Linked DNA regions of Homo sapiens. The protein of the gene in region 3 interacts with the protein of the main gene of each other region in a pairwise test. Each region holds a gene or a part of one and is shown on either strand. Other genes may lie near its edges. The genes, in order: IQCN, C11orf65, CALML3 and IQCB1.

Region 1 (7,043 bases), on a different chromosome or scaffold from region 3:
ATACCATTGCACACCAGCCTGGGTGACTGAGCGAAACTCAGTTCAAAAAAAAAAAAAAAAGATAAAAGGAAACTCTATGTGGTACTTTAGGGCTGAGGGAGTATCCCCAAAAAAGGGGCAAATTTGGAGAGCATTCAGACTTCCTTGGAGAAAGTATGGTCCCGCCTAACAAGTTAACGGAGATAATTGCTGGATCGGCCAAGCCAGAGCTGGTCTGGAGTTGCAAAACAAGCAAAAGGCCCACCCTCCAGGGTGCAGATGTGGGAACAGGTTATCAACAGTTGGTGCTCTGGATGTGCACTGGAAACCTAAGTGTTGCTGGGGCAGGAGGCCTTCAATGTGTATGGGCCACCGTGGGGGCTCTGTTCGTTTATTATCATTTATTTATTTATGATTTTTGAGACAGAGTCTCACTCTGTCCCCCAGGCTGGAGTGCAGCGGCACTCAGCATCTTGGCTCACTGCAACCTCCGCCTCCTGGGTTCAAGCGATTCTCCTGCCTCAGCCTCCCGAGTAGCTGGGATTACAGGCATGAATCCCACCACACCCAGCTAATTTTGTTTGTTTTGTTTTGTTTTGTTTTTGGAGGGACGGGGTTTCACCATGTTGGCCAGGCTGGTCTCAAACTCCTGATCTCAGGTGATTCGCCTGCCTCGGCCTCCCAAAGTGCTGGGATTACAGGCGTGAGCCACCGCGCCTGGCCTTTTTTTTTTTCTCTCTCTCTTTTGAGTTTTGTTCTTGTCGCCCAGGCTGGAGTGCAGTGGCGCGATCTCCTTTCACTGCAACCTCTACCTCTCGGTTTCCAGCGATTCTCCTACCTCAGCCTCCTGAGCAGCTGGGATTACAGGCACCTGCCACCACGCCTAGCAAATTTTTGTATTTTTAGTACAGATGGGGTTTCATCATATTGGTCAGGCTGGTCTCAAATTCCTGACCACAGGTGATCCACCCACCTTGGCCTCCCAAAGTGCTGGGATTACAGGCATGAGCCACCGCGCCCGGCCTTAGGGGCTCTGTTTTTTGTGTGTGTTGAGAGGGCTGCAGAAAGGTTTTCACCAGGTCAAGACTGCAAAGTCACAGGACCACGTTCTGGATCCAGGGCTCGGGCAGGCTTCACCTGGTGTCTTCACACCTCTATCCCTAATGCCTCACCAGCGCCCTCTATTGAGAAATCTTAGCATTGTGCTCACTTTTTTTTTTTTTTTGAGACGGAGTCTCGTTCTGTCTCCCAGGCTGGAGTGCACTGGCACCATCTCGGCTCACTGCAAGCTCTGCCTCCCGGGTTCACGCCATTCTCCTGCCTCAGCCTCCTGAGTAGCTGGGACTACAGGCGCCTGCCACCACGCCCAGTTAATATTTTGTATTTTTAGTAGAGACGGGGTTTCACTATGCTAGCCAGGATGGTCTCCATCTCCTGACCTCGTGATTCGCCCACCTCGGCCTCCCAAAGTGCTGGGATTACAGGCGTGAGCCACCGCGCCTGGCCGAGCATTGTGCTCACTTTAAACAAGACATAACGAAAGAAATTCCTTTGTTTATCACATATTGAAAGGGTCCATTCGGAGACAAGAGGCAATGCATGGATAATTGACACACATATATTTATTATTTTTATTTTTTTGAGATGGACGGAATCTTGCTCTGTTGCCCAGGCTGAAGTGCAGTGGCACGATCTTGGCTCACTGCAACCTCCGCCTCCCAGGTTCAAAGTGATTCTCCTGTCTCAGCCTCCCGAGTAGCTGGGATTACAGGCACTTGCCACCACACTTGGCTAACTTTTGTATTTTTAGTAGAGTTGGGGTTTCGCCATGTTGGCCAGACTGGTCTCGAACCCCTGACCTCAAGTGATCCGCCCGCCTCGGCCTCCCAAAGTGCTGGGATTACAGGCATGAGTCACCATGCCCGGCCTAATTATTATTATTATTCTCTTTGAGACGGAATTTCACTTTTGTTGCCCAGGCTGGAGTGCAATGGCGCCATCTTGGCTCACTGCAACCTCTGCCTCCAGGTTCAAGCGATTCTCCTGCCTCAGCCTCCCAAATAGCTAGGATTACAGGCATGCGCCACCACACCTAATTTCGTATTTTTAGTGGAAATGGGGTTTCTCCATGTTGGTCAGGCTGGTCTTGAACTCCTGATCACAGGTGATCTGCCCGCCTTGGCTTCCCAAAGTGCTGGCGTTACAGGCGTGAGCCACCTTGCCCGGCCTAATTTTTGAATTTTTAGTAGAGATGGGGTTTGACCATATGGGTCAGGCTGGTCTCGAACTCCTGAGGCAGGAAAATCACTTGAACCCGGGAGACAGCAGCTCTGGGAGCTGAATGGGCCCATTCCAGGGGCTGAGGTTTCATCAACCAAACGGTGCAGCTCTTTAGAGGAACTCAACCAGAAGGGGTGAGAAACGGGATTGTGGGGGATGAGAAGAAGGAACAGGGGCCCCCTGGACACAGAAGCCAAGCGACTGGCTCGGTAATTTTGAGTAAACCCCTCTGAGCCTCAATTTCCCTATCTGTCACAAGACATAAGATCACCATCCTCAGGTTGCCAAAGAGACACAACAGGCTCAGCTGGGCGCAGTGGCTCCTGCCCGTAATCCAAGCACTTTGGGGGACCAAGGTGGGAGGATCGCTGCAGCCCAAGAGTTTGAAAACAGCCTGGGCAACATGTCTCTATTTATTTAAAAAAATAATAATAAAGAGACATAACAGGCTCTCCATGATGTCCCCCATCACAGGTGAACAAATCCACCATCAAGGCTTTAGAGGTCCCTAGAGCCCCTGCTGTGAGGGGCCAAGGAGCTGACCCATCATTTGCAGTCACCCAGAAGGCCCAGAAGGGCTCTAAAGGCACTGGGGGCCAGAGGAGAACGACAGGGTCCCCCACGAACCCTCGCAAACAAGTCCTCCACCAGCCCCACTCACCCGCCCCTGAAGCCACCAGCCCCACTCACCCGCCCCCAAAGCCACCAGCCCCACTCACCTGCCCCTGAAGCTAAACCTAGCAGTCTGAACGGCCAGTCTTGGAGCCCTGGTGCCGCAGCAGCTTTGTGACTCAAAGCCAAGTTCTGGCCAATCCCTGGCAGCTCTTAGGGGGTGGGGATTCTAGAAGGCACAGCCAGAGGTTGGGGAACAGGATGCAGGGCAGGGCCAAAGGTCATGGTGGTTGCTACCTACACCGGCTCATCCTGAGTACAAAGGGTTCTCAGCACAGAGGGAACCCCAAATCTCCCCCTCCATGTACCTAGAGGCAGTTTCAGTCTTTCATCCCACGGGCATTTTCTGAGCACCTACTATATGCTGGAATTTGCCCCATGTCTGGGGATACAAACAACTCAAAGAATTTGAGGCTGTAAAATGGCTAGATGGGAAGGGACCAAAAAGGGGGTGCAACGGGCCAGTCAGGGTTCTCACTGATGTCTTGGGTGTGGCTCTGAGACTGCGGGCTCCTTGGGGTGGGGCCGGACTTGATCTCTTGGGATCCCCACTGGGCCCGGCAAAAGTGGGTACTGACCCTGAGCCGCAGCGCTATAAGGGGAAGTCAGGCTGCTGTCCTGGATCACCTCCTGGGGCTGGGCTGGGGCCCAGCATGAGTCACCGCTGGCTGGGCCAAGGCTGACACGCACCTTGGACTCAGTGCAGCTGGCTCCAGCCAAAGCCAGCCTGGCCCAGAAGCCTCTGCCTGGCTTCCTTGGGGAGCCGCTGGGGGTTGCCGGGACAAGAACCAGCAGGGGTGCCTGACCTCCCTCTGCAGCGATCACCCCCTCCAAAACCTTCCCTATACTGTGGGTGTGACTTTGGACAAAATCAGGGACATGGCAGATGGCAGTTGGGTGGGGTTTATATCCTTTGTCTGTTTTTTGAGATTGAGTCTCGCTCTGTTGCCCAGGCTGGAGTGCAGTGCTACGATCTCAGCTCACTGCAACCTCCACCTCCCCGGGTTCAAGCGATTCTCGTGCCTCAGCCTCCTGAGTAGCTGGGACTACAGGTGCATGCTATGACGCCCAGCTGATTTATGTAGTTTTAGTAGAGATAGGATTTCACCATGTTGGCCAGGCTGGTCTCAAACTCCTGACCACAAGTGATCCGCCTGCTGCGGCCTCCCAAAGTGCTGGGATTACAGGCATGAGCCACTGCACCCAGCTCATCCTTTGGATGTTTCATCAGAACAGGTCCCTTCTGTGCTGTCAACGAGCTAAACACAAACTGGGAGTTCTCAGGGCAATTGGAGACCGTAGGAGCCCAGTAAGGTGCTGGCCTAGCCTGAGGGTTACTAGGGACAGGCTTCCGAGGACTGTGCAGCTGAGGCTGGGAGGTGGCGCTCAGCTGCATGACTGGGGGAAGAGTAGCTGGCACAGAACTACAGCTGCAGCCGTGCAAAGACCCTGAGGCCAGGAAGGCAGGATATTGGGAATTTGGGTGGAGAGGCTCCTGAAAGGAGACACTGGCCAGCCCAGGGACTGGTGCAGTCAGGACTTTTTCCAAAAAGGTTTCAAGTAAGGAGTCAGATCTGTGATTTAGAAAAAGCCCTTCACATCACAGCTCATGCCTGCTTGACTCCCCCATCAGACTGGAGGGCTGGCCTCAACTAGGTGTCAATAAATGCTGGGGACGCTGGGCGCGATGGTTCATGCCTATAATCCCAGCACTTTGGGAGGCCAAGGCGGGCAGATCGATTGAGCCCAGGAGTTTGAGACCAGCCTGACCAATATGGCAAAACCTCGTCTCTACTAATAATACAAAAATTAGTCAGGCATGATGGCAAATGCCTGTAATCCCAGCTACTTTGGTGGCTGAGGCAGGAGAGTCACTTGAACCCAGGAGGTGGAGGCTACAGTGAGCCAAGATTGCACCACTGCACTCCAGCCTGAATGAGAGACCCTGACTCAAAAAAAAAAAAAAAAAAAAAAAAAAAAAAGAGGCCGAGTACAGTGGCTCAATACCTGTAGTCCCAGCATTTTGGGAGACCGAGGTTGGAGGATCACTTGAACACAGGAGTTCAAAACCAGCCTGGGCAACATAGATCCCATCTCTACAAAAAAATTATTTAAAAATTAGTAGGGCGGCTGGGCGTGGTGGCTCACGCCTGTAATCCCAGCACTTTGGGAGGCCAAGGCTGGCGGATCATGAGGTCAGGTGATCGAGATCAACCTGGCTAACACGGTGAAAGCCCATCTCTATTAAAAACACAAAAAAATTAGCCAGGCATGGTGGCAGGCGCCTGTAGTCCCAGCTACTCAGGAGGCTGAGGCAGGAGAATGGCGTGAACCTGGGAGGCGGAGCTTGCAATGAGCCGAGATGGCGCCACTGCACTCCAGCCTGGGCGGCAGAGCAAGACTCCGTCTCAAAGAAAAAATAAAAATAAAAATTAGTAGGGCATGGTGGCGTGCACCTGTGGTCCCAGCTACTTGGGAGGCTGAGGTGAGGCAGGACAATCAGTTGAGCCTAGGAGGTCAAGGCTGCAGTGAGCTGTGGTCTTGCCACTGCACTCTGGCCAAGGCAAGAGCGAGACCTCATCTTGTAAAGAAAAAAAAAAACAAACTTGTGGGGCCCAGTGGCTCACGCCTGTAATCCCAGCACTTTGGGAAGCCAAGGTGGGTGGATCACCTGAGGTCAGGAGTTCGAGACCAGCCTGGGCAACATGGTGAAACCCTGTCTCTACTAAAAATACAAAAAAAAATTTAGCCAGGCAGGGTGGCTCACGCCTGTAATCCCAGAAACTTTGGGAAGCTGAGGCGGGCAGATCACGAGGTCAGGAGATCGAGACCATCCTGGCTAACACGGTGAAACCCCGTCTCTACTAAAAACACAAAAAAATTAGCCGGGCATAGTGGCGGGCGCCTGCAGTCCCAGCTACTCAGGAGGCTGAGGCAGGAGAATGGCATGAACCAGGGAGGCAGAGCTTGCAGTGAGCTGAGATCGCGCCACCGCACTCCAGCCTGGGAGACAGAACGAGACTCCGTCTCAAAAAAAAAAATTTAGCTGGGCATGGTGGCAGACACCTGTAATCCCAGCTAATCAAGAGGCTGAGGCAAGAGAATCGATTGAAACTGGGAGGTGGAGGTTGCGGTAAGCCAAGATCAGGCCATTGCACTCCAGCCTGGGCGACAAGAGGAAGACTCAGTCTCAAAAAAAAAAAAGAAAAACAAAGTACGTCCTCCACCTCTCTGCAGGGCTCCTCAGAGTCCTTTCGCCTTAGACCACTTGGGGGCAGGCAAGCAAGAGACCTGGGTTTGAATCGCTGCTCTGCCATTTAACAGGGGTGTTGGCCGGGCACGGTGGCTCACGCCTGTAATCCCAGCACTTCGGGAGGCCGAGGCGGGCGGATCATGAGGTCAGGGGATCAAGACCATCCTGGCTAACACGGTGAAACCCCATCTCTACTAAAAGTACAAAAAATTAGCCAGGCGTGGTGGCGGGCGCCTGTATTCCCAGCTACTCAGGAGGCTGAGGCAGGAGAATGGCATGAACCCAGGAGGCGAAGCTTGCAGTGAGCCGAGACTGCGCCACTGCACTCCAGCCTGGGAGACAGAGCGAGACTCTGTCTCAAAAAAAAAAAAAAAAAAAAACAGGGGTGTTGGGCAAGTCTCAAAACCTCCCTTCCCCTTCTCTACTAATTGGGGGCCACAGTAGGTACCATCATTGAGTGCGGTCACTGTTGTCCGTCCCCTGAGCACCTCCCAGTTCTGACTTCTGACCTGAGAGATGTTATGCTGGATGCAAACACCCGCATCTCACAGCACAGGATGTAGAGGCCATCGGGGGAGGAGGACTCGCCTGAGATCTCACAAATGCCAACTGGAACCTAAGCTGGGTCCCGGTCTCCCAACCAGTGACACTCTGCCCGAGATGTGGTTCTTGGTCTCTTGTGTGTCAAGACACCCCTGCTCTCCCACCTCAGCCTCAGTTCCCTTCAGCAGGTTCCTTCAGGCCCTGCTGAAACGTCTGCATGACCTCCCACAAGGCAACGTGACAGCTAAAAACCAAACCCTGGCCGGACGTGGGGGCTCACGCCTGTAATCCCAGCACTTTGGGAGGCCGAGGCGGG
Region 2 (7,028 bases), on a different chromosome or scaffold from region 3:
ATAAAACATGTTTTCCTTGAAAAGTAAGAAACGATGTAATGCACTTCTCAATTAATTGAATAACTATCTTTGTTTCTTGCTTCTGTAATATGCTTCCCCCTGCACAGATCTCCCCCAACCCCATGAAATGCTTAAAAGGTAACTTAACTCTTTGTTCAGGGCTCAGTCCTTTGGATGTTAATCCGACTGGGCCAGTACACCTAAAATAACAAATATCCTCCTCTACCCCATCGGTCTCTCTGATTCCTTATCAATCCTGCTACACTACAGTATACCAGAGAAGTTCCAGCATTTTGCAAAGGTAGAACTTTGGTTGGCTCTACCTAAATCAGGCTTTGATTAGCTAACTTAACAGACCATTAACATAATTTCTGGCCAAAGCATTAAATCCACAATCCCAGGTGAGTATGGCCATATCAGTAAGTTCGGCCCAGCCAACTCTCGATCTAACAACCTTAGAATCCACCCTCACACAATGCTTCTGAGATTCCTGGCAATGTAGATTAGTAATTTCTTGTAACTGTTCTGGTTTATAAACTATCTCCTCTTGGAGTGGACCTTGTACCTCTGTCTGGGCTGTCCTGAAATACAAATCTCATTGTGAGCTAAAGGCAATGAGAAATAGTAGAGGGGGAATCCTGAGGAGAATCAGCTTAAGTGTGTGTGGCAACTGTGCCAGTGCAGTCACTGAAAGGCTTTTATGCAGAAAAGGGCCGCTTCCCTCAAAAGGGAGAGTAAGGGTTCCCTACACCAACAAGGCACTTTGGAAGTTCAAGATTCTTAGCCTTGTGTATGTTTGCCCAAATGTCCTAATCCCAGGCCTCAGAGTTCTACTTCTTCCCCACTAGTGCCCTTATCTTAGTGCAAAAGACCTGGCAGAGTTAAGCATTTGGTAGTACTGTAGGCATTGTAACCCTGTGACCCTTGCAATGGAACCCAGGGTTGCCCTCAACCCATGCTGTGACTATGAGATAAAGGACCACTTCAGAGCTGCCAGGGAGGTCTTCTGATTTTCTGCACAGGTTTTTAATTTTTTTTTTTTTTACTATTTTATTGAGGTATGGTTGATGTACAATAAACTACACATATTTAAATTGTACAATGTACAGTTTTGACATGTCTATATACCTGTAAATCCATCACTACAATAAAAAATAAATCTATCCATCACCCTCTGACGTTTCCTTGTACTCCTTTGGAATCCCTCTCTTTTTCCTCTTTCCTATCTCCAGACAACTACTGATCTGATTTGTGTCACTTCAGATTTGTGTCTTCTAGAATTGTATGTGAATGGAATCATACAGTATGTATTCTTTTTTGATAGATTTATTTCATTCGGCATTATTTTGAGGTTCGTCCATGTCATTCTGTCTATCAGTAGTTCATTCTGTTGTACTGCTGCGTAGTATTCCTTTGTGTAGATATCCTACCACTTGCTTATCCATTCACCTGCTGATGCAAATTTGTGCTGTTTCTGGTTTTTCGCAATTAAAATGACAAATAAACCAGCTATGAACATTCACATACAATCTTTCTGTGGACATGTTTTTATTTCTCTTGGGTAAGCATGTAGGGGTGGAATGACTAGGTAGAATATTTGGTGTGTTTACTTGTTTAAAAAAAAACTTGTCAAACCGTTTTCTGAAGTACACATTCTAATTTGCATTTGCTCCATATCCTTGCCAACAATTGGCATGACAGACTATTTCAGTCATTCTAGTGGGTGTGTAGGGGTATCTCATTATCATTTTAGTTAGCACTTCTCTAATGATTAATCATAGTCACTGGTTGAGTTATGCTAATTTGCTAGGTATGTATCTTCACTGATGGAGTGTTTATTCAAATTTTTTGCCCACTTTAAAATGTGATTGTTTGAGAGGTTTTTTTTTTGTTTTTTTTTTTTTTACATATTCTTGATTCAAGAACTTTGTCAGATATATATTTTGCAAATGTTTTATCCCGGTCTATGGCTTTTAATTTTGATAAAGTAAAATTTAAAATTGTTTCTTTTATAGTTCCTGACTTCTATGTCCTCTTTAAAAAATCTTGGCCAGAACAAAAGGCACTAAGATTTTCTCCTTCAATTACTTTTAGATGCTTTATGGTTTTTGCTCTTATATTTAGATCTATAATCTCTTTTCAGTTAATTTTACACATGCTGTAAGAGAACACTCAAGTTTCATTTTTCTGCATTTGAAAATCCAATTTGTTGAAAAGACTATTTTTTCCCAATTAAGTTCCCTTGGCACCTCTGTTGAAAATTAATTAACAATATACATGGGGGTTTATTTATTTATTTTTTTGAGACGGAGTCTCGCTCTGTCGCCCAGGCTGGATAGTGCGAGGATAGCAGTGGCTGGGGGGAAAGGCTGACTGATTCCAAGGAATGAGTCATCTTGCTCACCTGATTATTAAGATTCTTCTCTGTTGAGATTGTTCTTTGGTGAGCATTCACATACGACACAAGCATCTTCTCACTTGGTGCCCATCTGGAGAAGTCTGCACATACCTCTTCCCCAGACCACTTGTCACCAATTTTCTAACCATGTTCTTTCCAAATCCCTGACCATCCAGTCAAACCATCCATCAATCACCATCCATCTATAGATCTATACTTCTGGCCATCTTTTCTTTCAGGCACAATATACAACCAGGTATGCTACTTGAGGTTCTGTCCCAGTAGGATTTCCCTTCCCCTCTGTACTGCAAGTGAAGCTGTAATGTATATGGAACTTCCTGTGAGTCCCACCTTTTACTTGACCCCCTTAGGCCTGTTAGGACTTGAGTTTGACCAATGGAATGCAAAATAAATGTTGCTGTGACTTCCAAGATAAGGCCTTAAAAAGCCTTGTAACTTCCACTTTCTGTCTTTGATACTTTTTTTTGTGTTTGTTTCGAGATGGAGTCTCGCTCTGTCACCCAGGCTGGAGTGCAGTGGTGCGATCTCTGCTCACTGCAAGCTCCGCCTCCTGGGTTCACGCCATTCTCCTGCCTCAGCCTCCCAAGTAGCTGGGACTACAGGCGCCTGCCACCAAGCCCGGCTAATTTTTTCTTTTCTTTTTTTTTTTTTTTGGATTTTTAACTAGAGACGGGGTTTCACCATGTTAGCGAGGATGGTCTCAATCTCCCGATCTCGTGATCTGCCTGCCTCAGCCTCCCAAAGTGCTGGGATTACAGGCGTGAGCCACCGCGCCCGGCCACATGGGGGTTTATTTCACAATTCCATATTCTGTTCCATTGACCTATATTTCTGTCTATATGCCAATACCACAATGTCATGATTACAGTAGCTTTATAAGTCTTGAAATCAAGTAGTATAGTTCTCCAATGTTGGGATTCGATCAGGCTGCTGGGAAAAATATTAGTTATGATGGCCACAAAACCTTTTTGGAAGGCCTGAGGGTTTTCACATGACCTCGGTAACAGACCGGGCCGAAGGCGGCCTGGTCCCATTAACTTTAGTTAAAAAGATTAAAGTAGTAAACAACGGGATGTGGCGAAGTTTTACCTAGTTAGCTTGTTTACTCATGCGGTCTTAAGACAAGCCTTTGATGTGTGCTTTTTACTCGGGAAGTCCACAATGTCAGTTAGCCTCTAATGGCGTTCACTCAAACTTTTGTTAACTAATCTTAATGAATAAATATGAGTCTCCCTAGCTGATTGGGGCCAGCTGCAGTGACAAGCCTCTCTTGGTGTGTAGGCGGTTGGACACTCAGCAGGACTGGCAAAACAGAATATCTGTGTGTCAGTGTGCGTTTTATTCATCTGTCGTTTGGGTCAGGGTCTGCGGGCAGACCCCCTGCAGCTAATGCCCTCTTGTGAGGAGCAATACCTCATTTCAAATTTGTTTTTTTCCCAAAATACTACGTATTTCCTTAGTAAGTGTTTCATCAACTTACATTTGCCTCATCCACTCTATTTTTCTAAGTTTTCTTTTCTTTTCCAAATCTTGCCTTCTCTTCAGTTTAGAGAAATGGAATTCACTTTCCTTTTTGTCTTCCACCACCATACCATCAGTAGATAGCCAAAACTATTGAGAAACAAAAATGAACATACAAAATGTTGAAATATCGATTGTGAGGTTATCTGGCAATAGACAAGAACTTCTATGTGTTCAGTAGGAATATGGCAAGATAGAAACAGAGGAGAGGATAGATACTTTCAAGGTATTTCTAATTAAGTGATGGGTGAGTAGTACACTCAGCCTTCAGAAGCACATGCTACAGATAGATCAACAAAGTACTAGTGTACTGAGGTGCTTAATAAGTGTTGAATGGATAAATAAACAGATATATTCTAAGAGTGTCTCATCTTCTCACATGAATAGACCTGACCTACTCTTAGTGCTGATGGCTTTTGATGACTCTAATCCTCAAGGAGTACAGCCACCCTTCAGGAATGCAGAAGTCCCTGTACCATGTCCTAAGACTTTGTGGTTTCCCCGTTATGACATTTTCTCCTAACTGGTTGTCTATTTTCCCCCTTCCAACTCATTCCCCCTGCTCTATCACACATACCCTAGATAATAAGGAAAGTTTGTTAATCCTTCCAAACACTATATATTTGCCCTTATTAAACCACTTAACATGTTTACCACACTGTACTGAAATATCCTGTTTACTTGACTGTCTCCCTAATTGAAAGGCAAACTACTTAAGTCTATCCCCTGCATCCAGAACAATGTCTGGTATATGGTTGATATGCAATAGTTTATTATTAAACAAATGAATGAATTCATACCTTGATCATTTTCACTTTTCATACTTGGTATATTCTTTTGTGTTTGTTTTTGTTGTTGTTGTTAGTTTGTTTTTTGAGACAGAGTCTCACTCTGTCGCCCAGGCTGAAGTGCAGTGGTGCCATCTCAGCTCAAAGTGCTGGGATTACAGGCATGAGCCACAGAGCCTGGTCATACTTAGTGTTAATATATTCAACATACCAAATTCTACAATCCGTATACTGGGTATATAATCTGCTGAGTACCAGAGAGTATCTAAAGATGGTCTAGATTCAAAGCTGATAATTAAAAGTAGAAATAAATGTAGTAAGAAAAAGATAAATTGCTGTGCCTTGAAGTATTATTAGCAACCCCTGAGTAGCTAACTTAAGCAAAATTTATCAATTAAATTACTAGGATTTATTATTTTAAAAAATAATTTTAAAATTAATTTTTGAAAAGACAAATGGGTTTCTAAATACGTAAGGTTAAAAATTAACATTTCTCTTTTCTTACTGTATCAGAAACTGGCCTCCAGCCATTGTTTTCTATACGATGATACCAGCCACTATGATCCTCTTCCTGAAGATGATCATTTTTATTATGAGATGTATGCTTTGCTGGAAGTTTTGCATAATTTCTAGGGCTGTTAGCACAGAGATCTTCAATAGGTCTGTGAGTAAAAATCTTATAGTATATATCAGGTGGAAATTTAACCTGTAGAAGGAAAAGTTCAAAGAGCCATTGTAATGTAACTACAAAAATGTTTTACATTTTGAAAAATTACATTGTTTCAATTTCATAAAAATGTGCTTTATAACTACTAAATAAGCATTCATCCATACTTACTCCACCTAATCTGAATCGCACATGAATGCCAGCAGCAGCATCTAGAAGCTCTGCCTATAAGAAAATATATTATTCTTATATATTATTCTTCAGGATTCTGTATGTATCAATTCACTATTTCTCACTCTATTATTTTAAATAATTGCTAAATATTGACTATTTAGGAAATCAGTCAGGTGAACCAACCTCAAATAATCAATTTTAAATTAGAAAAATTGTTAAAAAAATTTTTTTGAGATGGGATTTCACTCTGTTGCCCAGGCTGGAGTGCGGTGGCATGATCTCAGCTCACTGCAGCCTTAACCTCCTGGGCTCAAGCGATGCTCCCATCTCAGCCTCCCAGATAGCTGAGACTACAGGTGTGCACCACCATGCCTGGCTAATTTTGTATTTTTTTTTTTTTTTGTAGAGACAAGAGTCTTCCTATGTTGCCAAGCTGGTCTCGAATTCTTGGCCTCAAGTGATACTCCTGTCTTGGCCTCCCAAAGTGCTAAGATTACAGGCATGAGCCACTGTGCTCAGCCATTAAAAAAAATTTTTTTTTTGTAATTAGAAAATATTTTATGAGGCCGGGCATGGTGGCTCACGCCTGTAATCCCAGAACTTTGGGAGGCCGAGGTGGGTGGATAATGAGGTCAGGAGATCGAGACCACGGTGAAACCCCGTCTCTACTAAAAATACAAAAAATTAGCTAGGCATGGTGGCAGGCACCTGTAGTCTCAGCTACTCAGGAGGCTGAGGCAGGAGAATGGCACGAACCCAGGAGGCAGAGTTTGCAGTGAGCCAAGATCGCCCCACTGCACTCCAGCCTGGGCGACAGAGCAAGACTCTGTCTCAAAAAAAAAAAAAAAAAAAAAGAAAAGAAAAGAAAATATTTTATGAGCTAAGGACTTAATTTCTTTTTATTATTATTATTATTATTATTATTATTATTTTATTATTACACTTTAAGTTTTAGGGTACATGTGCACAATGTGCAGGTTAGTTACATAGGTATACATGTGCCATGCTGGTGCGCTGCACCCACTAAAAGGACTTAATTTCTTATGGACATCTATGGTAAATGAAAAAATGATACCAAACTGTTTCCTTTTTATGCAATATATAAACATAAAAGCCAAGTAATTTTTTAGTCATAAAACTTAACTTTTAAATAACTCCTCAAATATTACATATAAAATATTATCTTGCAGGTAAATTCAAAGAAAAAATTATGACTGATCAACCTAAATTCAACAGTAGATGACCTTTCCTAATTAGCTATTGTTAAATTTAAAAATCCATGTTTAAAATTCTGGGCCGGGCGTGGTGGCTCACACCTGTAATCCCAACACTTTGGGAAGCCGAGGAGGGTGGATTGTTTGAGGTCAGGAGTTCCAAAGCCAGCCTGGCCAACATGGTGAAACCCTGTCTCTACTAAAAATACAAAAATTAGCTGGGTGTGGTGTCGGATGCCTGTAAT
Region 3 (6,558 bases):
ATCCTTTCACTCCTCCCACCCTCCACCCTCCAGTAAGCCCCAGTGTGTGTTGTGTTCATGTGTTCTCATCATTTAACTCCCACTTATAAGTGAGAACACGCAGTATCTGGTTCCTGCATTAGTTTGAAAGAATAATGGACTCCAGCTCCATCTCTGTCCCTGCAAAGGACATGATCTCGTTCTTTCTTATGGCTGCATAGTATTCCATGGTGTATACGTACCACACTTTCTTTATCAGTCTATCATTGATGGGCATTTGGTTAATTCTATGACTTTGTTATTATGAACAGTGCTGCAATGAACATACGCGTGCATGTGTCTTTATAATAGAGCAATTTATATTTCTTTGGGTATGTACCCAGTAATGGGATTGCTGAAAAATATGGTTTTATGTGAACAAGTAATGGGTTTATTTCTATTAAGTTATAAATATATAAAAATATACTTAAATATTTAAATATTTCTTGGTTTTAGTTGCAAACACAGTATATATATATATATATATATATCCCACATAAACACAAGCTCTTTGGAGTCCCCAATAATTTTTAAATGTTTAAATGTATCCTGAGACCAAAATAATATCTATTCTGTAGGGAAAGGAGTTGCTATATTGGGGTGAGAGGCTGCAGGGAGAGAGTTAAACAGAAAATAAAAAACATTCCCTCTGTCACAGTTTCCCAACCAGCGAGTTGCAACAGTATGGCCCATCGTAAGGCGGTCCTGGTCCTCTGTGAGTCACTTTGCACTAAGCAACGCTGTTTAAAATTCTGAGTCCTCTTTTTTTTTGAGACAGGGTCTTGCTCTGTCTCCCAGGCTGGAGTGCAGTGGCACGATCTTGGCTCACTGCAACCTCTCCCTCCCTGGTTCAAGTGATTCTTCTGCCTCAGCCTCCCAAGTAGCTGTAGCTGGGATTACAGGCACCACCCACCATGCCTGGCCAATTTTTGTACTTTTAGTAGAGACCTTTAGTAGAGGTTTCACCATGTCAGCCAGGCTGGTCTCGAACTCCTGACCTCAAGTTCAGGCCTGCCTCGGCCTCCCAAAGTGGTAGGATTATGGGTGTGAGCCACTGCACCTGGCACTGAGTCCTCTTTCAGTGTGCCTTTTTGAGAAGGACATTTAGGTAAAAGCTAATGTTTGAGCCACAGAGCCATGACCCAGAAACCAGCAGTTACCTGTTGGCTTCTCATCCTGGTCGTTGGTCAAGTGGGCAGGAGGTATGACCGTATTCCTGTCCTTGTCCATCAGGGCACTGTCTCAGGCCAGGTTTCCCCCTGATGCCATCCGGGGCTCTCCAGAAGACTGTGTCAGCCACATGTCCGAATCCCTTGGTGCTCCTGTCTCCTGTGACTGTCCCTGTATTCCTTCATGAAGAAGTCTCTCCAGCCCCTAGGCAGGGAAAGTAGAAGAAAAATGCTTCATAGCATCTTTTCCACTAGATGGTCACTCTGGCAGTCAAATAGGGGGTGTGGTTATTGGCTATTAATTATTCTGCTTTTCTATACATAATAATAGCTATGCTCACCATAGTCTCATATCTCTGAGAGATATAAAGCTGACAATATTACCAGGCCCTCCACATTACCTAACCTCAGAGAAAGAGAAAGAATATTGGGAGTTCAGTAAGATATGGAATATTTTTTATCAGGGATGGTTTTTGAATCTTCAGTCATTTCCCCTAATAATAGAAATGATATATGGCAAATATAAAACATTTTTAAATGAGCAAAGATACTACATTTATAAGAAAATTAAAAGCACTTATAATCCTATTATCCAAAGTATCCACTATTAAGAGTTTGGTACATGATTATCTAGGCGTTTCTTCTGTGAATGTATATAAATAAACATATATAAATGTTTAATACATGAAATCATATCACATATACAGTTTTCTATCTGCTTTTTAAAAATTTTCCATGGAAACCTTTCCATTGTTATATCCTCATCCTCATTTTAAAGGCTGTGTATTATTTCATGGTGTGGAGGAAATTTCAGGTATTTGTTACTAACCTGCTATTTTTGGGTATTCGGGTGATCTAGAGCGGAGATATTTAAATATTTTTAAAGTGCGTTTGGGATATGAATTCTAACACTCAGGCATCAGGCACCAGTGTACAATCAAGAGCCCTTCTCAGAAGGTGACAGAAGGTCCCCATGTCCCAGAATTAGCCCCCAAAAAACCCCAAAATAAAAAAGGGACCTTGATCCCCAGCTGAACTTTTCATGGGGTGACCTTGAGCAAGCTGTGTGTGCAGCCTTTGCTGGGTCTCCCCACCACAAAAGAGATCTCCAGAATATTCGAGGAAGGGCGGGGCTCCCAGGAGCAAAGCACACACTCTTTCTTGCGCAGCCCCCTGTGGACAGAGCTGTAACCTGGGCCCAGGGCATGCTCCCAGCCTGCAAATGGAGATGCTGCCTCATTTTTCTCTCTAAATCTAAACTTTATTATCAGCCCCTCTCCTACCCCAGGGAGTCCTGGCCAGCCCATCTCCCCACTCCCCTAGAGCTGTTGGGGTGTGAGGTCTCAGGCAAGGCCGAATATTCTGGGGTGAGAAAGGAGGGGAGGGTGGGATCTGGTCACCAAAGTGTCACCCACACACGTGGCTTCCAAGATGCCCATCACCTCGTTCCCTCCACGCCACCCCTGGGCCCCAGGGCTCTTTGCCAAGGCTGCCTGTGGCCACCACATCCCTGAGCCCTGCTGCTCTGGGGTCCACAAACTTCTCTTCTAAGGAAAAGATTCCATGGGGATGGAGGGATTCTTCAACCTTCCTGCTTCCTCCTGCCCAAACCCTCAGGACACAGGCTTTGTGGGAGCCCTCAGGTAGGAAGGAAGGTGTCTTGCAGGTGGCTTCAATTTTCCCCCTACCACAGACCCCCTCCAGACCAGAAGGACACACTTGCCTCTACTTGAATAGAGAAGGGAAGGAAAATCAGAGAGAAAAAAAATGAATATCCGAGCCCTTCTCCTGCCATAGTCTCTCCTCGGCAAGTCCAGGTCCTCAAAAGGACACTTTCTTTCCCTTTCCGGTCTCTACCCCACCCCCACACACCCAGCAAAAAATAGAGTGGGCTCCATGTTTCTCCCCCAGTGTGGATTTCTTGGATTCCCACAGGTGAAGCGCCTGCTCCTGCCTCTCTGGGGGTCATGTCTCCAGGCCCCCTGGGAGTGGGAGCCGAGTCTGTGCTGTGAACACCCCACTATCCCCCTAAGCGGGTCTCCTCTGGGAGAGGCCGCTCCACAGCCCCAGCTCCATGCTGCCCGGAGCTCCTGGGGCAATGTGGACCAGAGAATGATAGTGGGACTTCCTGGCTGAGCCCTTCAAGGTCTCCTTTGTCTCTCCTCCTTGTCCCCTCCCTCACAGGCCTGCAGCCCCACTGATCATCTTCCAGCCCTTGGCCCTGCCATGGCCACTCCGGCCTAGACAGCTGCTTCTCAGCAGGAGGTCTGTCCTTGACCAGGCTGAAAGGTGACCTCGGGGTCCTGTCCATCACCACCTTGTATGTCCATCAGCATTTATCAATAATCCCTAGTCACCTTGTTTGCATTCCTCGATCAGTTGACCTGCAAACTAGCTGTCTTGCTAGTTAACCTCACGAGGACTGGGGGTGGCTTGCCGGTCCCACTGTGTTCCCAGCTTCCAGAGTGACACTGCACCTAGTAGGCACTCAAATATCTGTGAAAGGGTGGATGAGTGAATGGGTTGGAGGAAACCCCTCCCTATTCATGTCCATTCTGAAGATAAGAAAACTCGCTGCTTCTACCTGAAGGGAAAACCTTCCTCCTCCAAAAACCCTCCTGTTCTATATGAGGCTTTAGAAACCAAAGGCAAGGACGTTTCTTTCATCTGCCTTTCATCCTGCAAAAAGCCCTCCACTCAAGGGAAGAAAGGGCACTGGAGTTTATTGAGTGGGAGACAGGCGGCAGGTGGGAGACGGGGAGGGAGGAGAGAAAGGGAAATTCAGGAGGAAGGAGTCCAGCGTGGATTGCTCCAAAGCTCACCCACCACGCCCTGACTGCAGGTGTGATTCGGGGCCCCCGTGGCTCTGCTGGGTCCAGGTGCAAGCAGGCACAGAGGTGCTGGCGTCAGCTCGATTCGCAGGCCCTGGACTCCTGTCTAAACAGGACAGGCCCGGGCAACCGCAGGGCAGGGGCGTCTGCCAATGATGGGGGAGGACTCTGCTGCTTCTTAAGCTCCAGCGTCTCAAGCCAGGGCGAGACAGCCCGCCGGCCGCCCGGATCTCCACCTGCCACCCCAGAGCTGGGACAGCAGCCGGGCTGCGGCACTGGGAGGGAGACCCCACAGTGGCCTCTTCTGCCACCCACGCCCCCACCCCTGGCATGGCCGACCAGCTGACTGAGGAGCAGGTCACAGAATTCAAGGAGGCCTTCTCCCTGTTTGACAAGGATGGGGACGGCTGCATCACCACCCGCGAGCTGGGCACGGTCATGCGGTCCCTGGGCCAGAACCCCACGGAGGCCGAGCTGCGGGACATGATGAGTGAGATCGACCGGGACGGCAACGGCACCGTGGACTTCCCCGAGTTCCTGGGCATGATGGCCAGGAAGATGAAGGACACGGACAACGAGGAGGAGATCCGCGAGGCCTTCCGCGTGTTCGACAAGGACGGCAACGGCTTCGTCAGCGCCGCCGAGCTGCGACACGTCATGACCCGGCTGGGGGAGAAGCTGAGTGACGAGGAGGTGGACGAGATGATCCGGGCCGCGGACACGGACGGAGACGGACAGGTGAACTACGAGGAGTTTGTCCGTGTGCTGGTGTCCAAGTGAGGCCGGCGCCCACCATGCTCCTGGGCGCCCACGCGGCCCACAGGGCAAGAACCCGGGGCCTCCCGCCTCCTCCCCCATCCCCCTGCCTCCCCTGGGCACTGTGGCTTCCTCCTGCGCCTGGTTGATTCAGCCCACCTCTCTGCATCCCGCTTCCCGCGTCTCTTCTCTGCACTCCTGCCGACCTTCCCACCTGCTCGTCTGAATGACACGGAACGCTCCCACTGCAGGCAAACCGTGACGCCCTCCCCACTCGGGAGAAGCAGAGCTGACCTTAGGACCGAGCACCAGGGCAGGTTGCGCTGACTCTGCGGCCCTCCAGGACGGACACCGGGTGACCCCTTAGGGCACCCAGGCAAGATCCCTAAGAGGCACCCAATGCCCAGGCCAGGGGGGCTGCAGCCCTCAGCCCCCGCCAGGATTCCCGCAGGCTCCTGGACTGGAAGCTCCCTCCGCGGTCGGATTCTGGAGGGTGGGAGGCATCTTGGCCTGCAGTAAGCGGTGCTGACGGGGACTCTGGCCACAGAGGTCAGGCCTCCTGAAAACAGCACTGCCTTCCGCGCTGCCCCAGCTTGCCCCATTCCTTGTCCGCCAACCCACCGTGATTCATCTTCTGAAGCTGGGAGTGAAACTGGGTCAGCTGTAACCTGTTCCTATTCATCTGGAAGGAGGGAGGCTTGGATGAGCAGGGGATGAGAGCTGCAGGGAAATAAATGAGATATTCGTCCTTATTTCATTTCCTTTTTTTTTTTGGTTTCCATGGAAATGATCCTTGTTAAATTCAGGGTTGAAACGAGGCAGGAATCTCCATTTTTGTGCTTTTTGAAAATGCAATGAATTCCTATACGGGGGAGCGGGAAAGGTGCCTCAGAGAGAGACAAGTCTGGATGAGGGAAATATTGAATATTCTCAATCAAATGGATACGCTGGCAGCAAAGAGTGGTTAAAAGTCCATCAGGACTTGAAAGACCTGAGTCCATTACGTTGAGAAGGGACCTGCTGATTGCTTTGATTCCCCCTGGCAAGTGCTCCCTGGTTGTGAAGTGCCAGGCACTAGAGATGGTGAGGGGTTGGGGGGCAGTTGGGCACACACAGTGTAAGAGCAATTCAGAGCCGTTAGTCCTGCACTAGCCCTGCAAGCTGCTGGCAACACCTAGAGAAGGTCGAAGGGGCCCTGCCAGAGATCCCTTCAATTCTAAAGGGAGGTATGTTTTGCGGGATGGGCACTAGACGGAGCTCATCAGAAAAGGCCATGGTGGATGTATCCTCTCTCCCTGACACCCCACCCCCGCCCACCAACACCCAGTGTTTCCTCCTTTGTAAAACAAAGAGCTGGGCCCCAGCCCCGGCCTTGCCATCATCACTGCACCACTGGGACCTCCAGGATGACAGGACCCTCATGCCACCTGCTTGGGCTCAGGGCACCATCAAGCACTTGGCCTGCATAGACAATTGGCACCTCCCTATGGGGCAGCCACTATTATTACCTTCCTCATCTTACAAACGAGGAAGTGGAGACACAGAGGGCTTTAGAAAGCAGCCCTGGGTCCCACCAGTGGGTAAGAGGCAGACCTGGGATTTCAGTCAGGTCTGTGCCCTGACCACTCAGCTACAGGTCTGACACCAACCTGTGCCTCCATCATGGTAACTACGGTAGCGCCTCTCTCCAGCACTTGTGAGGAGCCAGAACAACATTCTTAACACACCTGGCATGTAGTAGGTGCTTAATAATGGCAGCTACTGTTACCATCACCTTCAAGATC
Region 4 (7,296 bases), on a different chromosome or scaffold from region 3:
GTTAGATGAAAATTGGTATGATTGTGTTTTAATTTGTATTTCTTTGATTATTAGGGATGTCAGGCACATTTCGTGTTCACTGGCCATTATTTCTTTTATGTATTTTCTATTCATATCCCTTGACTATATTTCTATCGGTTTGTCTTATTCTTTTGCAGAAGCTTTTCATACATGGATAGGAATCTTTTCTCTTTTATATTGGCTGTAAAATTTTCTCCTTGTCATTTATTTTTTTAAATTTGACTATGGGGTCTTTACCATAATTTTACAATTTTTTTTTTTTTTTTTGAGAGAGAGTCTGACTCTGTTTACCCTGGCTGCAGTGCAGTGGTGCAATCTCAGCTCACTGCATCCTCCACCTCCTGGGTTCAAGTGATTTCATGCCTCAGCCTCCCAAGTAGCTGGGATTACAGGCGTGTGCCAACGTGCCCAGCTAATTTTTGTATTTTTAGTAGAGATGGGGTTTCACCATGTTGGCCAGGCTGGTCTTGAACTCATGACCTCAAGTGGTCTGCCCACTTCGGCCTCCCAAAGTGCTGGGATTACAGGCATGAGCCACAGCGCCCAGCCATTTTTACAATTTTTACATATGAAATATAACAATCTTTTCCTCTATGGCATCTGTCTTTTGTGTCCTGTTTAGAAAGGTCCTCTCTAACCCAAGAGATAAAAAACATTCTCCAAATCTTCATGTTTTTTTGGTTTTGTTTTCCTTACATATCTTCTAAAGTAAGGTATTTTTGTGAATGGTGTCATATAAGAATCTAATTTTTAATGTTAAAGTTATTGATGGATTAAAAAATGCACACAGTAGTCATAAATTCATAAGGTAACTAGTTATGAATAGACATAACAGAAACAATCTGAAACGTCACATTTTCATGCACTATGTATACATACACATACACAGGGTATCTTTTTGGACTCTACTTAGTTTCTAGTAATTTAATCTGTTTGTCTATTCTTGAGCTAGTACAACATAGTTCATTTTAATATATGTTTGGAGAAAATTCACCTCAGAAGGTAAGCTTCATGAGGGCAACCTACCTATCCCTTAGAGATGATTAAATGAGTTAATACATGAAAGCAATTGGAACAATTCCTGGCACATAGTAAGAGCTCTCCAAATGGTTATTATTAAAGCCCAGTTCTACCATCATACTACATTTTAAGACCATCTTTGCTGGCTGCCTTCTTATATCTTTGGTTCACAACTGTATTCCCAGTGGCTAGACTAGTACCTGGCACGTACTAGGATTTGCTAAATACAGGTTGAAAGTATGAGTAAATGCACAAACCTCAGGCATTCTGAGCCTCAATTTCTTGACTTTCTGTTTTTCTCTTGTTACAATAGAGAAAGCTCAGATTTATAGTTGGAAGCCTCTCTAACGTAAAATAGGCTCAAAACAGTTTGTGCCCTCCTGGCTACCGTAATAAAACATCACTAAATCATTATTGTCATCAACAAATATGTGCAGAGCAGTATGGTAGATGCAGGGGATGCAAAGATTCTACACAAGACATACTCTCTGCTATTGTTCTGGTTGGGAAAGAAAAGTATGTTTATGTACATGTGTACACACACACAGATACAAAAAAATATACTTAAGAATATCAGATATATGTTAAATGCTAAATAGATGACACAGATAAGAATACAGGCCATAAAGTCAGAGGACTGGGCTTCTCTGAACCATTTTTCTTGCTGTAAACAAAATAGCAATTCCTACCTCCTAGAATGATTCTATTTAGAAGAGAAGGCAGCCACCAAGATGGTCTTAAAATGTAGTATAAGTGTAGAGCTGGGCCTTAAATAACCATTTGGAGACCTCTTATCATGCTCCAGGAATTGTTCTAATTGCTTTCATGTATTAACTCATTTAATCATTCCAACAACTCTAAGGAACAGATACTATTATTTTTTTCCCAATTTGAACAATGAGCATACTTAAACTCTGGAGAATGTAATTAGCTGGCACAAAGTCACACTGTTAAGTATAAAGCAGGGGTTCAAACTAGAGCCACCATCTGCCTTAAAGCATTTAACTACGATATGAAACAGCTTCGGCACACCTTCAAAGGGTAGGATTTACACAGACAGGTTGAAGGAGACATAACCACCTACCCCAAAATCAATTGACAAATGTGCCTAAGGCAGAAGGTGAGGGAGTGCAGTTGGATTGCGTAATTACCCTGAAAAACCACCTGTTATGGAAACCATCTGTAAACTTTCTCGAGTGTTTCTCCTATAATTCAACACTTCTCCCATCTTTACATTAAATTCATGAAATTTGACACAAAAAGACAATTATTTATCTATTTTAAGGCTACTACCCTGTTGCCAGGCCACCGGGTCCGGCCCAGCCTTGATTCTTCGGGAATCACTTCTCCCTCGCCGCGCCTGTTACTGCCTCCACGGATCACTGTGAGGAAAATAAATGAAAAGGAAATTCAGTGCGATCCTGTTGCGGCTGATCCTAAATGTCTGCAGTTGCTATCTCCGAATCCTCTTTCTCCTCCCCACTACACATCCCCTTCTCCAGTCCTAGGACCACAAGAAACTTCCTCTGGTACAAAAAGGTCAGAAAACGATTACTGAGGTAACAGCGTCGCTTCAAGTCTAAGGACCGAGATTCTGGGGCCTCTGGGCTCCTTTACTCCAGATTCTAGACCCGGCTTTCGCGCTACCAGGCCTTGGATAAGACACTAGGCCCTGTGCCTGGACACTGCACCTCCCCAGGCCTCAGTTTCCACACCAGATCTCTACAGAGTGGGCGTGAGGGCAGGCCGATTCTCCCGTTAAGAGCTCTTACAAGCCGGCTGACTTCGTCCAGGAGCCTGGGGTCCTGGCCTCCTGGTAGGCGCCCTGGGGCCCTCTCCCTCCCCAGCCACCACCTCAGATAAGTTACCTCATCCTCGCTTCGCGTTCTTCCACTAAAGAACCTGGGGCTCCCACGCCGCACTACAGCGCCGCGGCCTTCCGGGGCAGCGTGCGTCGCGACGCGGGAAGGGGCCTGGAGGCGGGACTAGGAGCCTCGGAGTCAAGGGGCGGAGCGCCCTTTGCTAATAAGCCAATCAGAACGTGAGACGCTCCGGTGGGGCGGTGCGCGTCGAGCGCGGGGTGGAGTCTGGGTGACTTGGCTGGCGGGATCAAGTGCAGCTGCTTCAGGCTGAGGTGGCAGATAGTGAGCGCTGGTGGCGGAGTTAAAGTCAAAGCAGGAGAGTAATTATGAATAGCGCAGCGGGATTCTCACACCTAGACCGTCGCGAGCGGGTTCTCAAGTTAGGGGAGAGTTTCGAGAAGCAGCCGCGCTGCGCCTTCCACACTGTGCGCTGTGAGTGAGGACCATCCGGGGATAGAGGGGGAGCCTCCCGGGATGGGGGTGAAGAGGCACAAACCCCTCTGGGTTTTGTTCCCACAGTACCCCTTACACTGTTGGAGACTACGGGGCGGGGAGGGGGGAGGCAGCGCGATCCTCTAACCTGCTCGGAGTCTTAGGGGGTCGGTGGAAGGAATCGGAGTAGAGCAAATGTGGGTAAACCCTGGACAGAGAGCGTTGAGACCAGCAGACAGGAAGGGAAAGTGTGAAAAAAGTCTGTAGAGGTGACTGTGGAGACAGACGTGACAGGTGGATGATGCAGGGGTGGACAGGAAAATAATAAGGTGACAAATGGGAAGGGACTAAGGACCGAATGCCGGGGAACTTGAATGCCTTGAGGCTGGTGGGGCAATATTCTCTCTTTTCATCACTTTTTCTCACCTCTGGCAGATGAGGGTTCTTATTTGGTGTGTTCTTTGCAAAGGGAGAAATTCTCAACCATCCCAATGATCTGTATATCTCTTTGGACCCCAGATTTCACTCAGTTATCAAATACTGATTATCAAAGTATTCGAGGGTGTGTTATTAATTTCTTTATTTGGAAGATGCTTACCTCCCTATGATTTCTACCCTTTGGTTTTCTTTATGTCCTCTGGAACTAGTTTTAATAAATTATTCTCTTTTATGTTGTTGGAGTAGAAAAAGGAGCTCTTTTGCTTTAGCAGTTGGATGATATAGATTCCAGGAAGGAAAATATAGCATATAAGTTTTTATGTGTAAGACATTCGTTTTTTGCATAACAACTGTCATAGAATTGTAGAGCGGGAAGGAAACTTCAAGATCACTGAATTATAACTTCTCATTTTTCTGTGGTAAAACTGTAAGTATTTTTTCACTTCCTTTCCCCAGCCTTGCCCTTCCTTAATATCTCATCATTCCGCCTTTCTCAGTCATTCTGTTCTCGGGTTGTTTAGAGACCTTTATGGTTTTTACTCTGAAATGTTCCATGGTTCAATCAAAACAACTAATTAAAGCATACATTCTCCCAAAAGTTTATTTAAGTTGTAGACAATTTAGTTATAGTTACTCAAAGTAAAGGTATGAAGAACCACTGGTTTTAACCCTGCAAGAATATATTTACTAAAAGGGTTTTTTTAAAGCAAAATTAACATCCAATTGGTAGAATAAATGGGTGAGATATTTGTGAACAGAAACTCTTCAACAGTGTCCCTTGTTTATTCTTCTTTATCATATACTTTCTCATCCAGAGCTCCCCACGATGAGATGGTGCTGTGCTGGCTCTGCAGTTTCTCTCTCTTCAGTCCCATTTTCCGGAAGTGTGATATGCGTCTTTATCTGGTTTTTCCATGCCTTTTTCTCAAATAGTATCTACTCTCTCCTTTTCTCTTCCTTCTCAGGTATGCAATAGTCTTAATATTAATTTTTCAAGTTACAAGGGCTTAAGATTATAAAAATTTGCTTAAGAATATATTTCTATATGATTTGGGTATATATTCTCTTATGTAGGGCACAAATCCCAATTTAAATGAATAAAAAATTGCCTTTGAAAATAATCTTGCAGGTCCTTCACAGCCTTTCATTTATAAAGGTTCTGAAAATGCCAGTATCTTGAAAGTCAGAGGATCAGATGATCCAGCTACCAGAATGAAAATAAACAAAAATAAGCAAAACAACAATAATGACAATAATAAATAAACAAACATACATGTTTGAATACACACTTAGTCCTGTGGAAGACAGAACTATTAGAAAAGTTTTCAGTCCTTATTTTCTTTTATTGTTGTTGTTGAAGCAGGTGTGGTAATGGCACAGAATCATTTTAGATTTATTTAAATAAAACTGTTTATTATTCTTGAGGACAGGTTCATTTCCAATGTAATCCTCACTCTTAAGAACTCAGAGTGAGGTTTGAAAATTGTAGAATAGTATGAAGCTGATGTTCATGCAGATAAGGGGGACCTAATTTATAACCAACCCTCAAGCCAATGTCATTGGAGAGAAAGTAATATTCTGCCTTTATTTACAGGAGCAATTCTGCCTGTCTGATATAAGACTTCAGGCAAACCCGGATGTGAATCCTGGTCTCCACCACCTATATATATAATGTGACTTTGGGAACATTCTCTAAGCTCTCAACCTCAGTTTTCTTATGGCTAAAAGATAATAGTAATATTTACATTTCATGGTTTGTGTAAGGATTAAATAAGATAGCATAAACAACCTGGAACAATATTTGCCACAGGGTAGAGAATAAATAGTAGTCACCATTAATGTTGAAGAGTTATATTCATATGTGTACGAGGGGTGCTAATGAATGTAATTTAGTCAGACTTTGAAACAGCATTTATCAGAGTTTAGCAATAAAAACTATCAAAAAGATAGTCTGGCATGTGGTAGGAAGGGCATGGGATGTTCTATCAACGATAAGCTGAATGCTTAGCAACAGGTGCTTTACCGGGTAGAAGAGTTTCAATAACAGGACCTACTAGAATCAATTTTGAATTGGGAGTAGTACTAGTTTTACTATTTATATCCAGATAAGGCAATGAATTGTGAAATCCTAAGTTTGTAAATGACACCACTTTTTTGTGTCCTTAAATGATGAGCTAATGAGCAGTGTGGGTTTTGGAGTTGGTTGAATTCATTCAAATCCCGGAAAATAAACTGATGATAATAATTGTGGATTCTTATGAAAATATTGGCATTATGTGATGTTACAGTTAAAATAATCAGAAAAGCGATAAACATTGGCAGAAAAGGTATTAAATACAAAGTAGAAAATGGTTTTCTACTCTTCATGCAATATAATAAGTAATTCCATTGTAAACCTGAAAAAATTGCATAGATGAAAGAAATCCAGAGAGAATAAATAAATGGTAAAGTTGGTGGTAGGGTTTCCAAACCAAGGAGAACTGAGAAATGAACTATTTAGTCTGGAATCATAGCAACTTGGAAGAGAATATGTTTGACATTTAGAAGCATACAGAAAGTATGAATATGAGATTAATCAGCAAATTCTTTAATTCTGGAACTCAACCACTTGAAACTCGGAAGTTATATACTTTTAAAAAAGTGTGTGAGGACAAAAGACAACACTGCTTGATATAATGGGTAATAAAGAGTAGAGTTTATTAATCCTAACAGTAGAATAATTAGAAATGTAAATAGATTCAGAATAGTTTTGGCAGATTTATTGATTATGAATTCATGTTTATCATTAAGTAAAGCTAAAGATATTTTGCATACATTTGTCTCTTGCAGATAATCTCATATACTATAGGCATCTATGTAGTCTTCAGGGACCTGTGAACCCCTTGGGATTGTACAGTATTTGATATGTATGTTCATATATGTATTTTTCTGTGGAGAGGATCAATGATTGGTCTATAATTTTCATCAGGTTTTCATAGGGATGGATTTATGATTGTCTCTCATCTCCTAATACTGCTCCCCATACACATACATACAAGTTAAGATCTGTGGATGTAAGACAAACAGGCTATATAATATGAGGAGATAAATTATGTGGCTTGAGTTCCTGACTTCATCATTTATTGACTTCATTACTTTAGAGGAGTTCTCCATTAGTAAAAGGTGGGCAAAATGTTCAACCCAAAATTTTTTTTGTGAAGATTAAAATTGATAGTATATTGTAAAGAAAAAAATCACTTCATAAACACTAAAACAGAGGTTATAGATTAATAGCATATAGGCTGAGCTTGACTTTAGAAGTGCTTTGTTTGGTCCACACCATTGTTGTTTTATCTTGAGTTAGTTGCAAATACCTAACATTCAGGACCTTTTATATAAAAAATCTAGATTTTCAGCTTATCTTTAAAAATCAGATGATAAGCTGGCAACATTGATCCCATATCTTCTCTTGGCAGCAGTTGGGTGGAGCAGAGTTATGAGATTGGGTTTATTCATCCTCCGTGTGACTATGATTCCCACTGGT

What was found.
Region 1: the proteins of CALML3 (region 3) and IQCN interact in binary tests that used the Homo sapiens proteins (3 or more experiments, as listed by UniProt).
Region 2: the proteins of CALML3 (region 3) and C11orf65 interact in binary tests that used the Homo sapiens proteins (3 or more experiments, as listed by UniProt).
Region 4: the proteins of CALML3 (region 3) and IQCB1 interact in binary tests that used the Homo sapiens proteins (3 or more experiments, as listed by UniProt).

Annotation. Positions count from the first base shown.
Region 1 is NC_000019.10:18,271,425-18,278,467, forward strand, and holds the start of IQCN (IQ domain-containing protein N), read right to left. Parts: upstream 3,029-7,043; 5' UTR 2,979-3,028; intron 1-2,978. UniProt on the Homo sapiens protein: Essential for spermiogenesis and fertilization. May be required for manchette assembly in elongating spermatids.
Region 2 is NC_000011.10:108,401,530-108,408,557, forward strand, and holds part of C11orf65 (protein MFI), read right to left. Parts: intron 5,621-7,028; coding exon 5,567-5,620; intron 5,435-5,566; coding exon 5,234-5,434; intron 4,031-5,233; coding exon 3,900-4,030; intron 1-3,899. UniProt on the Homo sapiens protein: Acts as an inhibitor of mitochondrial fission. Interacts with MFF and prevents DNM1L recruitment to mitochondria, promoting a more fused mitochondrial network.
Region 3 is NC_000010.11:5,520,738-5,527,295, forward strand, and holds CALML3 (calmodulin-like protein 3), read left to right. Parts: upstream 1-4,223; 5' UTR 4,224-4,348; coding exon 4,349-4,798; 3' UTR 4,799-6,034; downstream 6,035-6,558. UniProt on the Homo sapiens protein: May function as a specific light chain of unconventional myosin-10 (MYO10), also enhances MYO10 translation, possibly by acting as a chaperone for the emerging MYO10 heavy chain protein.
Region 4 is NC_000003.12:121,832,057-121,839,352, forward strand, and holds the start of IQCB1 (IQ calmodulin-binding motif-containing protein 1), read right to left. Parts: upstream 3,005-7,296; 5' UTR 2,910-3,004; intron 2,424-2,909; 5' UTR 2,335-2,423; intron 1-2,334. Other genes in the region: EAF2 (ELL-associated factor 2), read left to right, coding at 4,600-4,738. UniProt on the Homo sapiens protein: Involved in ciliogenesis. The function in an early step in cilia formation depends on its association with CEP290/NPHP6.